Linked DNA regions of Homo sapiens. The protein of the gene in region 2 purifies or fractionates together with the protein of the main gene of each other region. This does not show direct contact. Each region holds a gene or a part of one and is shown on either strand. Other genes may lie near its edges.

Evidence for each region.
Region 1: the proteins of PGM2 (region 2) and GLTP fractionate together in Homo sapiens (co-fractionation; one large-scale study listed by BioGRID). This does not show direct contact.

Annotation. Positions count from the first base shown.
Region 1 is NC_000012.12:109,850,137-109,853,513, forward strand, and holds the end of GLTP (glycolipid transfer protein), read right to left. Parts: intron 2,602-3,377; coding exon 2,419-2,601; 3' UTR 809-2,418; downstream 1-808. UniProt on the Homo sapiens protein: Accelerates the intermembrane transfer of various glycolipids. Catalyzes the transfer of various glycosphingolipids between membranes but does not catalyze the transfer of phospholipids. May be involved in the intracellular translocation of glucosylceramides.
Region 2 is NC_000004.12:37,860,234-37,863,437, forward strand, and holds the end of PGM2 (phosphopentomutase), read left to right. Parts: intron 1-1,276; coding exon 1,277-1,379; 3' UTR 1,380-2,704; downstream 2,705-3,204. UniProt on the Homo sapiens protein: Catalyzes the conversion of the nucleoside breakdown products ribose-1-phosphate and deoxyribose-1-phosphate to the corresponding 5-phosphopentoses.

The DNA.
Region 1 (3,377 bases), on a different chromosome or scaffold from region 2:
TTCAACTCCCACTTATGAGTGACAACATGCAGTGTTTGGTTTTCTGTTCCTGTGTTAGTTTGCTGAGAATGATGGCTTCCAGCTTTATCCATGTCCCTGCAAAGGACATGAACTCATTCTTTTTTATGGCTACAGAAACCCAAGATTTTTTTTTTTTTTTTTTTTTTTTTTTTTTTTTTTTGAGATGGAGTCTCGCTCTTATCAGCCAGGCTGGAGTGCAATGGTGCGATCTTGGCTCACTGCAAGCTCTGCCTCCTGGTTCCAAGCAATTCTCCTGCCTCAGCCTCTGAAGTAGCTGGGTTTACAGGCACCCGCCACCACACCTGGCTAATTTTTGTATTTTTAGTAGAGATGGGGTTTTACCATGTTGGCCAGGCTGGTCTCGAACTCCTGACATCAAGTGATCCACCCACCTCGGCCTCCCAAAATGCTGGGATTACAGAAGTGAGCCACTGCACCCTGCCGAAACCCAAGATTCTTATGTGAAATTCCCGTTTCTCCATGCAGCAACCAGTTCTGTTTTTTAAGACCACGGAGGCCAGGCCTGGTGCAGTGGCTCATGCCTGTAATCCCAACCCTTTGGGAGGCTGAGGCAAGAGGATTGCTTGAGGCCAGGAGATTGAGACCAGCCTGGGCAACATAGCAAGACCCCAATCTCTACAAAAACATTTAAAAATAATAGATAAATAAAATTTTAAAACCATGGACGCCAGAAAATACATTCTTGGTAGGATTTGTAAGGGTCCCCAGTTGTAATTTCTGATGCAGGAAAGAAAAAAAAATCAAGAACCAATACAGTGCACAGATGTGATTCCAAAATAGAGATTTATTTATTAAGGATTATTTAGTTTCTGCATAAAAATCTCCAATTGTTCCTCATTGGGTTTTTTCTTTTAAAACACACATCAACTCTTTTGGGGTTGCTTTGTTTGCCCCAGCACTTTAAAAAATACAGCTCTTTTTAGCGCCAGGAAGAACAGTTAAGGTTAAGGCAGTGAGGCGTTTTCTTGGATCTTAGCAGCTGAAGGGTTCATCTCTCCCCGTCAAGAGAATACACACGGTAGGTAGTTTCTTAGGTTGGAAAATCTGTCCCTGAAGGAAATAATTCTGCAGAAGAATGCAAACGGAGTCATCTATGGTCAATTGTTTGTGCCCTATAGCTTTGAAAGAAACGCCTCTTGGTCATCAAGGGCTTGCTGGTTGGTTTCAGCTGTAAAACAACAACAACAACAACAAAAAACAACCAGAAAAAAGAAAACAAACAAAAAAATCTGTCTAGCGAGACAGAAAGAGCAGGGTTTACAATAGTGCTGTGAGGCTGGGCTGTGCAAACCACATGAGAATACACACCAGTTTGCTTTTTAAAAAATCCCACATAGGGGCCCTGCATAATTTTAAATCAAACTCTTTATAGTCCTTAAAATAACAATACAGCGAGAGCCTCATAAGGTCACGTGCTTTTTTTTCTTTTTTTTCTTTTTTGAGACAGAGTTTCGCTTTTGTTGCCCAGGCTGGAATGCAGTGGCGCGATCTCGGCTACTGTAACCTCCACCTCCCAGTTTCTAGCGATTCTCCTGCCTCAGCCTCCCAAGAAGATGGGATTACAGGCGTGCGCTACCATGCCTGGCTAATTCTATATTTTTAGTAGAGATAGGGTTTCACCATGTTGGTCAGGCTGATCTCAAACCCTGACCTCAAGTAATCCACCCACCTCTTTTTTTTTTTTTTGAGACAGAGTTTCGCTCTTGTTGCCCAGGCTGGAGTGCAATGGTGCGATCTCAGCTCACTGCAACCTCCACCTCCCGGGTTCAAGCGATTCTCCTGCCTCAGCCTCCTGAGTAGCTGGAACTACAGGCGTGCGCCACCATGCCCAGCTAATTTTTTATATTTTTAGTAGCGATGGGGTTTCACCATGTTGGCCAGGCTGGTCTCAAACTCCCGACCTCAGGTGATCCACCCGCCTCAGCCTCCCAAAGTGCTGGGATTACAGGCGTGAGCCACGGTGCCCAGCCATCATGTGCTTATTTTTAAAGCGAGGTGGATGACACCATTCCCCCAGAGCTGTGTTCCTCGTTGGCAACAAAACAAAACCAAAAAACCCTAGGACTTGACTCATTAGAAGTGTTAATCGGTTTTTACCACGCTGAAATGAAGGTATAAAGTCAGTCTGTGCTGTCGTGAAATTCCAAGGAGATTTGGAAGTAAGATCATTATTTACTGGTCCTTTAGAATAGACCAAAAAAAAAAAAAAAAAAGACTTAAAAAACGAGGGCTGTCCCCTGCAGACTCTGGCAGGACCCTGGGCTGCTCTGGGGGACACAGGCCAGGGGCAGTTCACCGACTTGATTCACAGTGATTCTGGTTTGCCTGTTTCTCCATGTGGCCACGAGTCGGGGACGTGTCCAGCAGTGGGCATGCCTACACCTTGTAGTTAAGCTCAGCGTTCATCTGGGTGTACATCTCGTAGATGACATCGATGGTCGCCGTGTAGTTGACTAGGAAGAGGCGGATCTTCTCCAGGCACTCCTCCTCCGTAACATTCTGCCCCTTGGAGAGCGCTTTCAGGAAGTCAGACTTATAGGGTGCTGCGTACAGTGCTGCCTTGAGACAGGCAAGAAGGGAGGTAGGCACAGCGTTAGCGGGGGCTGAGGAGCCAGGCCAGCAGGCCAGGGTTCTGGGAGGGGTCTTCCCTGGGTCTGTGCTGGACAGGGGGTTGTGCTATTTGAGGTGTTGGAAGGGAAAGGAAAAGGGAGGTGTATTTTGAGCGACAGCAGGAAGGACATCAGCTTTCGGGACAGACAAGCCTAGATGCAAATGCCAGTCTGGGCCATCAACTAGCTGTGAGCCTTGAGCAAGTCAGTTAGCCTCTCTGAGCTTCAGCTTCCTCATCTGCAAAATGGGGATAATGGCTGCCACCTAATCGGGTTGCTTTTATAAGGATTAGGGGGCTTGTACAAAGTGCTCAGCACAGCACCAGGCATACAGTAGGCACTCAGCACAACACCAGGCACACAGTAGGTGTTCAGCATGGGTGAGTCTCTTCCCTCTGGGTTCCCTGCTCCAGAAAAGGTGAACTGCTCCTTCGGAAAACCCACTTTCTGAGTTGGGGAGACGACTGCTAAATATGCTGTAGTCTCTCTTTTGTCCTTAGGGGGGCGATACTTCCCTAAATTTCAGAGCTGCTCCCATACTTGAAAAGTACAGAGAATTCAAAATTCACAGAATTTCAGAGCCAGAAGAAAAAAGGTACAACTAGATAAAAAGCTTAGGCTAGCCAAGCACGGTGGCTCATGCCTGTAATCCCAGCACTTTGGGAGGCCGAGGTGGGCAGATCACAAGATCAGGAGTTCGAGACCAGCCTGGCCAATATGATAAAA
Region 2 (3,204 bases):
TTCAAAGCACATTTATGGAGAAGGAAAAGAAAACTGATATAATTCATATGTACTTAAAAAGCATAATTACTTTATATGTTGCCAGTAGGGATAAAAATAATTATAATGATAGCTACATTTATTGAGGTCTTTGGGCCAGGTTCAGTGCTAATTGCTTTATATAATTTATCGCAATCTGTACAGAAACTCTCTTGAGAAGATAAAGTCTTTATCCCAATTTTACAAATGAGGAATCTGGGCCTTAGAGAGGCCAAGCCACTTGCCCAAGGGCACAGAGCTAGTAAGTATAGAGCCAGAATTAATGTCTACAATGAAATGGATTGCTTTAGCTATTACAGTACTGTTTAGCTATTACAATGTTGAAATGATTTTAACTAATTATAGGGATTTCCATTAAAATAAACTCTGCATATATTAAAGATGGTATGAAGAGTATGAAGTAATGGAAAGTACAAAGGATTTAGATTTTTAAATTTAGCTTTTTGGTGTTAAGTACTTACAGTACTCACACTAGGCTACTTAAGATGCTGGAAACCTCTTTAACTGCAAGTCAGCTGTATCTGTTACTTAACCTTTCAAATGTTTGTATATAAATGAGTGTTGCCCACAGCCCTGAAAACTTGATTTTCTTAAAGGGATTTGTCTCCCCAGATTCTTGTTTATACTTCAGTTGTGAATCTTTGGTTCAAGAAATAGATTCATTATGATATGACCACAGGGATCTGATTTCTTGGTGTTTGACTCCTCAAACCCACCCGGAGGCTCCCTATTGCTGTTCATTCTAGGAAGGCTTTATAGACAAGGCTGGAGCTTAGGTGCCAGTAGTTTGAGGGCAGACATCATCACAAATGTCTGTATTCTGGGAGACTGAGGAGTTAACAGAGATGTTGTTTATAAAAGTTTAGCAGGATTTAATGGCAACTGACATGAAAGCTTTCTCTACACCCTTAGGTACAAATATTACAGATCTTTTAGGGATGCTAGGCCAAAAATTGTGTTTCTTACAAAGTCTTATGAGAAGAGCAAAGGATAACTTTGTTTATAGTTCAGACATTGGAAAAATCTTTGGGAAAAATAATGCATATTGTCTCATGGGGTGTTTTGTCTAAGTCAATAGATGTGTTCCATGCTTAAGTCTCTGGAGTTCTCTTTTTTTTCCTATTTAGTCCTCTTCTTAAGGTTATATTTTCATTGTCACTTGGTCAATGGGGGGAGCATTTAAACTGTGCTTTGGAATAATCCCTTGACCTGGATTTTTTTCCCCCTTATTTTCCAGTGATCCTGAGCAGCTGAAGAAGGAACTGAATGAACTGGTCAGTGCTATTGAAGAACATTTTTTCCAGCCACAGAAGTACAATCTGCAGCCAAAAGCAGACTAAAATAGTCCAGCCTTGGGTATACTTGCATTTACCTACAATTAAGCTGGGTTTAACTTGTTAAGCAATATTTTTAAGGGCCAAATGATTCAAAACATCACAGGTATTTATGTGTTTTACAAAGACCTACATTCCTCATTGTTTCATGTTTGACCTTTAAGGTGAAAAAAGAAAATGGCCAAACCCAACAAACTAACATTCCTACTAAAAAGTTGAGCTTGGACATATTTTGAATTTTTGTAAGTGAAGATTTTTAAACTGACTAACTTAAAAAAATAGATTGTAATTGATGTGCCTTAATTTGCATAAATCATAAATGTATGTCCTCTCTGTAATTGTTTTAATGTGTGCTTGAAATATCCAGAAAACCTATGGAGTTAGTAAATTCTGGGCTGTCATATGTAGGATAGCCACTTTTTAGGTATATGTACATTTATATTTCTATCAATTCCTTAGAAAGTAAAATAAATGAATAGATCAAATGTTGTGTTCATGTTTGGGGAAAATATAATTTGCAGAAACCTATGAAGTAGAGCAAAGATGCTTTAAAAAGATAAGTTTTTTTGAACTAAATTTTTTTTAGTTCTAATAATGCACATAGGATATTAGTACATCGTACACGTGCTAGGAAAAAACAGCTTCAGTGTCTTTGTTTAATGTGTTGAAACTCATCTTTTTAAATCTTGAAAAACCAATTGTTTACTTGAAACTTGAAAGTAGCATATTTTTCTGTTTTTTGGTTGTTTGTTCATTTGTATTAGCACAATTTAATGTAATTCCTGGTTTGGAGGCAGCAAGACCTATGAGCAAGAACTATTTACTTGACCCTCGTTTTTTTCTCTTGTTCTTGTGTGGTCTGAAATCTAAAACTAGACTTTATTATGATAGATTTCCTATAAGCCAATTTCTAATAACAAATAGATTTATTATTTAATCTGTACCTTCTATCTTCTCATAATTCGTGGTCTTACAGCCTTCCAAAATAACTCCAGTTGGGCACCCATGAGCTAGGATCAAACTTTCTTTATATACTTTATATATTTTACATTATTTCTGATTTTTAAAGCAAATGATTGCCATTATGATTACACTCAACCTAAATAGTTATGAACAGTTTCAGAACAATGAAAAATTACAATACTATGTGATAGTATTGTAACTATTTTTCTATTTTAGTCATATGTCGCTTATATCCTACCAGAACTCTTAAATCTATAATATTCGATATATTCTACAAACTGCTTTATTGTAGAAGCCATATTTATGTTTATTTTATAATGTTTTCTAGTGTCAAACTGTACTGTGGAGAAAAGAAATGTTAGATCTGTGTTCTGTCTGCATTTTTTTTGAGTACATACCCTTCACCCTCTCATGGAGTTTGTTTCTGGAAATACGAAGTTGATTATGACCCAATCCTGCTATGATGGAACTCAGTCTGATTGGAGGGCTAATAAGTAACAGCAATACTTACAAATTCTATCATAGTGTTTTTTACAAGTATTCAGCGTTCAGAAATCTGAGGGAGGGATTCATGCTGCCCAAAGAAAGCCTCATAGATGAGGTGCTGAATGAAATGCTTCACCCTTAGGGATGAGGAGCAGCTGAAGATGGGAAAGAAAGCCTTCCAAGCAGAGAGCACAGCACGGACAAAAATGTGGAGGCTGTAGCAAGTGGGGGTAGGGGAAGCAAGGGGAGATGACGAAAACAGAAGCCAAGATGGAAACTTTAGAATGCATCCCACCTCTCTACCACTCACATGAGCGGATGATTTCACTGGACCTAGAGGGGATGCGCCCGAACTCTATTTGTCGCCCGTATTTCTAAGAAA